Linked DNA regions of Homo sapiens: region 1 is linked to region 2. Evidence: fine-mapped expression QTL. A gene starts in region 2. The other region holds a variant in brackets. All regions are shown on one strand. Distances are between the middles of the regions.

The links.
Region 1: its variant is fine-mapped to the expression of WIPI2 in whole blood (INTERVAL, PIP above 0.99). The same link has a PIP of 0.9 or more in monocytes.

Annotation. Positions count from the first base shown.
Region 1 is chr7:5,147,378-5,151,764 of GRCh38, reverse strand. No RefSeq gene overlaps it. Among named protein-coding and RNA genes, the nearest start is that of WIPI2, 41 kb to the left of the region's middle. The variant G/A (reference allele first, on the strand shown) is at 2,188.
Region 2 is chr7:5,187,617-5,191,964 of GRCh38, reverse strand. It overlaps WIPI2 (WD repeat domain, phosphoinositide interacting 2), which reads right to left and starts at 1,732. Exons shown (of 13, transcript NM_015610.4): 1 at 1,472-1,732. The coding sequence starts at 1,545. RefSeq lists silencers at 1,238-1,287, 1,298-1,947.

The DNA.
Region 1 (4,387 bases), 40 kb after region 2:
AGTCATTGGTGATCATTACCTAAGGGTGTTTTTGTTTGTTTGTTTGTGTTTGAGATGGAGTCTTGCTCTGTCGCCCAGGCTGGAGTGCAGGGGCGCGATCTTGGCTCACTGCAAGCTCCGCCTCTTGGATTCACGCCATTGTCCCGAGTAGCTGGGACTACAGGCGCCTGCCAACACACCCGGCTAATTTTTTGTATTTTTAGTAGAGACGGGGTTTCACCGTGTTAGCCAGGATTGTCTCGATCTCCTGACCTCGTGATCCACCCGTCTTGGCCTCCCAAAGTGCTGGGATTACAGGCGTGAGAAAAAAAAAGTTTTTTAGAGATGATGTCTTGCCATGTTGCCCAGGCTGGTCTTGAACTGGGCTCAATCGATCCTCCCACCGTAGGCTCCCAAAGTGCTGGAATTACAGGTGTGAACCACCAAGCCCAGCTAGAGCACTCATTTAGGAGTCTAGTTTTCTGACTCCTTCGGAGTCACATGGATTTTTTTAATGAGAAATAATCATTGGTGATTTTTTTTTTTTTTTGAGATAGTCTCACTCTGTTGCCCAGGCTGTGGATTAGTGGCATGATCTTGGCTCACTGCAACTTCCACCTTCTGAGTTCGAGCAATCCTTCTGCCTCAGCCTCCCAAGTAGCTAGCACTACAGACAGGTGTGCACCACCACACCTGGCAAATTTTTTTTTTTTTTTTTTTGGAGACAGAGTCTTGCTCTCTTGCCAGGCTGGAGTGCAGTGGTGTGATCTTGGCTCACTGCAACCTCTGCCTCCTGGGTTCAAGCGATTCTCCTGTCTCAGCCTCCTGAATAGCTGGGACTACAGGTGCGCACCACCACACCCAGCTAATTTTTGCATTTTTAGTAGAGACGGGGTTTCACCGTGTTGGCCAGGGTGGTCTTGATCTCTTGACCTCAGGATCCACCTGCCTCGGCCTCCCAAAGTGCTGGATTACAGGCATGAGCCACTACTTCCGACAAATTTTTGTATTTTTTAGTAGAGACAGGGTTTCACCATGTTGCCCAGGCTGGTCTTGAACTCCTGGCCTCAAGTGATCCACCCACCTCAGCCTTCCAAAATGCTGGGATTACAGATATGAGCCACCACGTTCGGCTTTATCAGTAATTTTTAGAGCACTTTTATTTTGGGAGCTCTATTACAGCAGTTTTATCCATGTCCTAAATAATATAGTTGCATACGTTCTTAGCTCTCATTTTGTAATTAGAGTTGGAATATTCCCCTTCCCATTCATTTTACAGGAGTTTTCATGTTATCTTGATATTAGAAGATGATAGCTGTAAGAGTTTTATTTTCTCTCTTACTAGGGAAGATAGGAAAAATAATAAAGATTTTATCTTTGGAAAAATAAACAAGTGATAGACAAATCTCTGGTGACACTAATCAATATAAAAGAGAAATTATTGGAAAACTCTCTAAAAATAGATATAGGAATTTAATTTTTTTTGCTACTGTTTCATAGCAACCATGAATTTATTGGGAAGGAAAACATTTTCAACCATTTATTATTACTTTTTCTTTTCTTTTTTTTTTTTTTGAGAGGGAGTCTCAATTTGTTGCCCAAGCTAGAGTGCAGTGGCGCTGTCTCTCCTTACTGCAAACTCTGCCTCCTGGGTTCAAGCAATTCTCCTGCCTCAGCTTTCCTAGTAGCTGGGATTACAGATGCCTGCCACCACACCCAGCTAATTTTTGTATTTTAGTAGAGACAGGGTTTCACCATGTTGGCCAGGCTGGTCTTGAACTCCTGACCTTGTGGTCCGCCCGCCTTGGCCTCTCAAAGTGCTGGGATTACAGGCATGAGCCCCCTCCCCCAGCCTATTATTACTTTTTTTTTTTTTGAGACAGGGTCTCGCTCTGCTGGTCAGGTTGGAGTGCAGTGGTGTGATCATAGCTCACTGCAGCCTCAAGCTCCCAGGTTCACGCGATCCTCCTACCTTGGCCTCCCAAAGTGCTGGGATTACAGGTGGGAGCCACTGTACTAGCCTTTGTACCATAATAAAATAAAGTCAGCCCTTCATATTTGGAGGGGATTGGTTCCAGGACACAACCCCTTTGTATTAGTTCATTCTCATACTGCTATGAAGAACTACCTGAGACTGGGTAATTTATAAAGAAAAGAGGTCTAATTGACTCACAGTTCTGCAGCCTGTACAGGAAGCGTGGCTGGGGA[G/A]GCCTCAGGAAACTGACAGTCATGGCGGAAGGCAAAGGGGAAGCAGGAATGTCTTACATGGCCAGAGCAGGAGGAAGAGAGAGAAAGACGGGAGGTGCTGCACACTTTTAAACAACCAGCTCTCATGATAAGTCACTCACTCTCACGAGTACAGCACGAAAGGGGAAACCTACCCCCATGATCCAATCGCCTCCCACCAGACCCACCTCCAACACTGGGGATTATAATTTTTTTTTTTTTTTTTTTTCCTGAGATGGAGTCTTGCTTTGTTGCCCAGGCTGGAGTGCAGTGGTGCAATCTCAGCTCACTGCAGCCTCTGCCTCCCGGCTTCAAGCAGTTCTCCTGCCTCAGCCTCCCAAGTAGCTTGGATTACAGGCATGTACCACCATGTCCGGCTAATCTTTGTTTTTTTAGTAGAGACGGAGTTTCATCATGTTGGCCAGGGTGGTCTCGAACTCCTGACCTCAGGTGATCCACCTGCCTCGGCCTCCCAAAGTGCTGGGATTACAGGTGTGAGCCAGCGCGGCCAGCCGGGGATTATAATTTAACATGAAATTTGGGCGGGGACACAGACCCAAACCATATCACCCTCATACCCAAATCTGCCATACTCAAATCCCACAGTTGGCCTTGCGGAACTGTGTATATGAAAAGTTGGGCTTGTATTTATTTGAGTTTCACATCCCTCAAATACTGTATTTTCTATTTGTGTTTGGTTGAAGAAAAAAAAACCTGCATATAAGTGGACCTTCGAAGTTCAAACCCATGGTGTTTGAGGGTCTACATAGTGTATTTTTTCCCCACTGATCTAAAATACAAATTTGTAGAGAAATCTTGAAAAAGTAATAGGCATAACAAATATCTGAGTTAAAAACATGTCCTGATTAAAGGACAATCTGGAAGAAAATATGTATAACCAAAATGACCTAAAGAGGAAGAAAGGAACAAATGACGTAAAACCCCAAAAGGATTATTCTTTTATATGCATATATATAATTTTTTTTTTTTTTTTTTTTTTTTTGAGACAGAGTCTTGCTCTGTCGCCCAGGCTGGAGTGCTGTGGCGAAATCTCGGCTTACTGCAACCTCTGCCTCCTGGATTCAAGTGATTCTCTTTCAAACAATTCTCCTGACTCAGCCTCCTGAGTAGCTGGGATTACAGGGCCCACCACCACGCCCAGCTAATGTTTTTATTTTTTTATTTTTATTTTTGAGATGAAGTTTCGTTCTTGTTGCTCAGGCTGGAGTGCAGTGGTGCAATCTTGGCTCACTGCAACCTCCGCCTCCTGGGTTCAAATGATTCTCCTGCCTCAGCCTCCCGAGTAGCTGGGATTACAGGCATGCGCCACCACACGTGGTTAATTTTTTTTGTATATTTAGTAGAGACGGGGTTTTGCCCTGTTGGTCAGGCTGGTCTCAAACTCCCGACCTCAGGTGATCCGCCCATCTTGGCCTCCCAAAGTGCTAGGATTACAGGCGTGAGCTGCTGGCTAATTTTTGTATTTTTAGTAGAGACGGGGTTTCGCAATGTTGGTCAGGCTGGTCTGAAACTCCTGACCTCAGGTGATCCACCCACCTTGGCCTTCCAAAGTGCTGGGTTTACAGGTGTGAGCCACTGTGCCTGGCCCCAAAAGGATTATTCTGAAAAGAGTCTCCACCCACAAGATTTGTAAATGAATCATTTTTATGGAGATGATTTCTACTGTTTATTTGTTTTCTTTTTGTTTTGTTTTGTTTTTTTGAGATGGAGTCACACACTGTGGGCTCAGGGCTGGAGTGCAATGGTGCTATCTCGGCTCCCTGCAACCTTTGTCTGCTGGGTTCACGCAATTCTCCTGCCTCAGCCTCCTGAGCAGCTGGGATTACAGGCCTACACCATCACACCTGGCTAATTTTGTGTATTTTTAGTAGAGCCAGGGTTTCACCATGTTAGCCATGATGATCTCGAACTCCTGTCCTCGTGATCTGCCTGCCTCGGCCTCCTAAAGTGCTGGGATTACAGGCATGAGCCACTGCGCCCGGCCTAGTGTTGATAATTCTCTCTAGAACCACACGGTAGAAACCACAGGTAGAATCTACCACAAGTTAGAAATCTATGTAGTTGAATGTGCAAAGGACTCCAATTACTGATGTCCAAACTTGATCCAGGAAACCAGATACAAAACCTTTTACAAAGAGACAAAATATTTTTGTAGAAACAA
Region 2 (4,348 bases):
CCCAGACCAGCTTGGAGCCTTTCGGAAGGATTTCCTCATCTGTAGTTGGATGAGGTGATTTGCCCCTTCCGACTCTCAATACAGTCCCACTGTGCGACTGTCTTCACAGCTTTGGGGAGGTGCTATTGAGTGCCTGCTGTACACCACCCACTGAGTGTTGTCCATTCTACAATTCACTTTTAATTTCCTAAAGAATCTTACCTTCTGCTATGTTAATTCCACTCAGCCAGTAACAACTCAACCAATGACTTAGTAAGATGCCAAATGCCCCACTCCTTCTCTTTCCTCACTTCCTCTTACTCACTTCCAAGATGGCTCTCCTCCCTGCCAACCCCATAACTCACCCTTCTCTCTCCAGAAAGCTCGCTCATCTATTAACCATCCCCACAAGTCCTCCTCCCAGGCAGCATCCAACCCGTATCAGTGGGGACAAACAGCGTTCCGAATGCACGGGCTGGCATTAAGGCCTTCTCTTGCCCTGAGGATGACCCACCCGCTGGAGCTCTGAGACTCCTGGGGCACTGGTCCGTAACGCCTCTCTTGGCTCAGTTTCTCCCTAGCTAGGTCAGATGCCAAGGTTATTGCTAAGTTTGTTACTTGCTGGAGAAGACATCAAAGTTGATGTCCCAAAAAGAACAGGGAGGGCCGCGCACGGTGGCTCACACCTGTAATCCCAGCACTTTGGGAGGCTGAGGTGGGCGGATCACTTGAGGTCAGGAATTTGAGACCAGCCTGACCAACATGGTGAAACCCTGTCTCTACTACAAATACAAAAAAGTTAGCTGGGCACAGTGGCGCGTGCCTGTAGTCTCAGCTACTCGGGAGGCTGAGGCAGGAGAATCGCTTGAACCCAGGAGGCGGAGGTTGCAGTGAGCTGAGATGGCACCACTGCACTCCAGCCTGGGCAACAGAGCAAGACTCTGTCTCAAAACAAAACAAACCCCAAAAAACAAAAACAAACAAAAAAACAGTGAGAAACGAAGAAAAGAAAATCAAGAGAGAGAGAAGGGTCTTAAGACGATGAAAAGACAAGGAGAAGGGCCTGATTCAAAGGAGAGTGAGTGGGAGACGCTGAGCAAGCAGCGGGAAGAGGAGACGAGAGGAGAGGAAGCGACCCACACCCAGCGCTCCACAGGCGGCCAAGACAAGTCAAGCCCCAAAGTTCGGCCCCAACTTTGCGAGAAGTAGTTAAGTCTGAAGCCAGGGGGCCTCCCCGCAAGAGGGTGAAAGCAGCCCCCTCTCCACCACCTCTCCCGCTCCGGGACCGCAGCTCCAGGCCAGCACCCGAGGGTCTCCCTGGAGGGCGCCCCTCCCTGCACGCCCCGGGCCCGCCCCTGGGGACGCCTCTGCGCGCCTTGGCCCGCGGGGAGGCCGAGCCTGCGACGCCGCCGAGCTTGGCAGCGAGGCCCTCCCCCTAGCCCGGGTCCGACCCTGGCCTCACCCCGACTCCGACCCCCGACCCCGGCCTTACGTGTTGTCCTGGTTGAAGTTGGCGAAGAGCAGCTGGCCGGCGCCGGCCTCCCCGCTCTGGCTCGCCAGGTTCATGGCTGGGCGCGCGGCGAGTGGGCCCGGCCGGGGAGGGCGCGCGCGCGAGGGCGGGTCAGGCTGCACTCAGGGTCGGCGCCGGGCCCCGCTCGCCGCCTCGGTCGCCGCCACTCGCCACCCTGGGATCAACCGCCGCCTCATCCCGTCCCCGCTCTTGTTTATGCTCCAGAGCCGGGGCACCCGGTACGCCTGCGCGGCCCCGCCCCCGCGACGCACGGCCTCGAGCGGCGCAGTCGCACTGCGGAGGCCCCGCCCTCTCACCGCCTGCCTGGGCTTGGGTTCCGGTGGATCACGCAGGCGTGGGGACGCGTCGGGGCGCGCTGGGCCTGGCTGAGGGCGAGCGGCGGCCGCTCATGCGCATGGGGCAGAGCTGGCGGGAGTCTGTTTTCTGCGTACCCTCCTCTTAATAACACTCAATGGCCAGGCACGGTGGCCTGTAATCCCAGCATTTTGGGAGGCCAAGGCGGGCGGATCACCTAAGATCAGAAGTTCGAGACCAGCCTGGCCAACATGGTGAAACCCCGTCTCTACTAAAAATACAAGAAAAATTAGCCGGGCTTGGTGGTGTACGCCTGTAATCCCAGCTACTCGGGAGGCTGAGGCAAGATAATCGCTTGAACCCAGGAGGCGGAGATTGCAGTGAGCCGAGATCATGCCACTGCAATCCATCCAGCCTGGGCCATAGAGCGAGACTCTGTCTCAAACAACAACAAAAACAAAAACAAAAACACCCCAATGGGCCCTCCATGTGCCAATCACTGTGCTGAATGCTTCTGCGCATTACCTTATCATTTTATTATTTTGAAAGACAAGGTCTCGCTCTGTTGCCTAGGCTGGAGTGCAGAGGCTCAATCACAGCTCACTGCAGCCTCAAACTCAGGCTCAAGCGATCCTCCCACCTTAGCCTCCCAAGTAGCTGGGACCACAAATGCATGCCACCACACCCTGCTAACTTTTAAGTTTTTTGTAGAGATGGGGTGGGGGCGGGGGGGGTCTTACTCTGTTGCCTAGGCTGGTCTCGCACTCCTGGCCTCAAGTGATGCTCCCACCTCGGCCTCCCAAAGTACTGGGATTACAGATGTGAGCCACTGTGCCCAGCCACATTATCTTATTTGATGCCCATTACAATCCTAAGTAGAGAATAGTATATCTTAATTTTACAGATTTGAAAATCGAGGCTCAGAAATAATTATTAGCCAAGTGCTAGATCTGAGACTGGAAACGTCCTGTTTCTCCAAGGTCCATACTGTCTGGGTTCCTGGGACAGAATCGTCCCTTAAATTTATTCATTCATTCAACAGTATTTAGGACGCACCTCTCATGTGAACTAAATAGGCCTCCTCCTTTCCCTCAGAGAAGTTATAATGGGGAGATATTTAAATATAAATAGAAGGCCAGGTGTGGTGGCTCTTACCTGTAATCCCAGCACTTTGGGAGGCTGAGGCGGGTGGATCACCTGAGGTCGGGAGTTCCAGACCAGCCTGGCTAACATGGTGAAACCCCGTCTCTACTAAAAGTACAAAAGTTAGCTGGGTATGGTGGTGGGCACCTGTAATCTCAGCTACTAGGGAGGCTGAGGTGGGAGAATTGCTTGAGCCCCACAGGTGGAGGTTGCAGTGAGCCGAGATTGCACCTCTGCACTCCAGCCTGGACGGACGACAGAGTGAGACTCCATCTAAAAAGTAAAATAAAATAGGCTGGGCATGGTGACTCACGCCTGTAACCCCAGCACTTTGGGAGGCTGAGGCAGGTGGATCACCTGAGGTCATGAGTTTGAGACTAGCCTGCCCAACATGGTGAAACCCTGTCTCTAGGAAAAATGTAAAATATTAGCCAGTTGTGGTGGCACGGCCCTGTAATCCCAGCTACTCAGGAGACTGAGATGGGAGAATTGCTTGAACCCAGGAGGTGAAGGCTGCAGTGAGCCGAGATCATGCCACTGCACTCCAGCCTGGGCGACACAGTGAGACTCCATCTCAAAAAATAAAATAAATAAATATAATTAGAAACTCGGGGGTACAATGAGCGAATATATATATATATATATATATATATATATTTTTTTTTTTTTTTTTTTTTTTTTTGAGACGGAATTTCACCTTCTTGACCAGGCTGGAGTGCGATGGCGCAATCTCGGCTCACTGCAACGTCCACCTTCCGGGTTCAAGTGATTCTCCTGCCTCAGCCTCCCGAGTAGCTGGGATTACAGGTGTGCACCATCACGCCCAGTTAATTTTTGTATGTTTAGTGGAGACGGGATTTCTCCATGTTGGTCACGCTGGTCTCGAACTTCCGACCTCAGGTAATCTGCCTGCCTCGGCCTCCCAAAGTGCTGGGATTACAGGCATGAGCCACTGTGCCTGACCATGAATGCATATATAGAAGTCACACAACCTATATTTAAGGGACAGGGACTGTGCTATTGAGAAGGCTCCTGGAAGAGATGAGACCTGAAGTTTGAGTAACTAGTCTAAGGGCATGAAAACACTCTATATGGGAAGGGCTTGAGGATGAGGGTGTGACCTGTCCAAAGAACTCTATGTTCAGAGTGGAAAGGCAGACACAAGGCAAGATTTGGCAGGAGAGACAGGAGGTGGCCAGATCAAGCTGCGTATTGTTACGCAAGGAACTGACCATTATCTGATTATTGTCCATAAGAGCAATGGTCTGCCGTTAAAGACAGGCAGGAAAGTGGAACGATCTAATGAGTGCTTACAGAAGTTAATTCTAATTATAGGGTCAAGAACGCATTGGAAATCATTGAGGAAAGGATGGTCTTTTCAATAAAAGGAATAAGTACCCC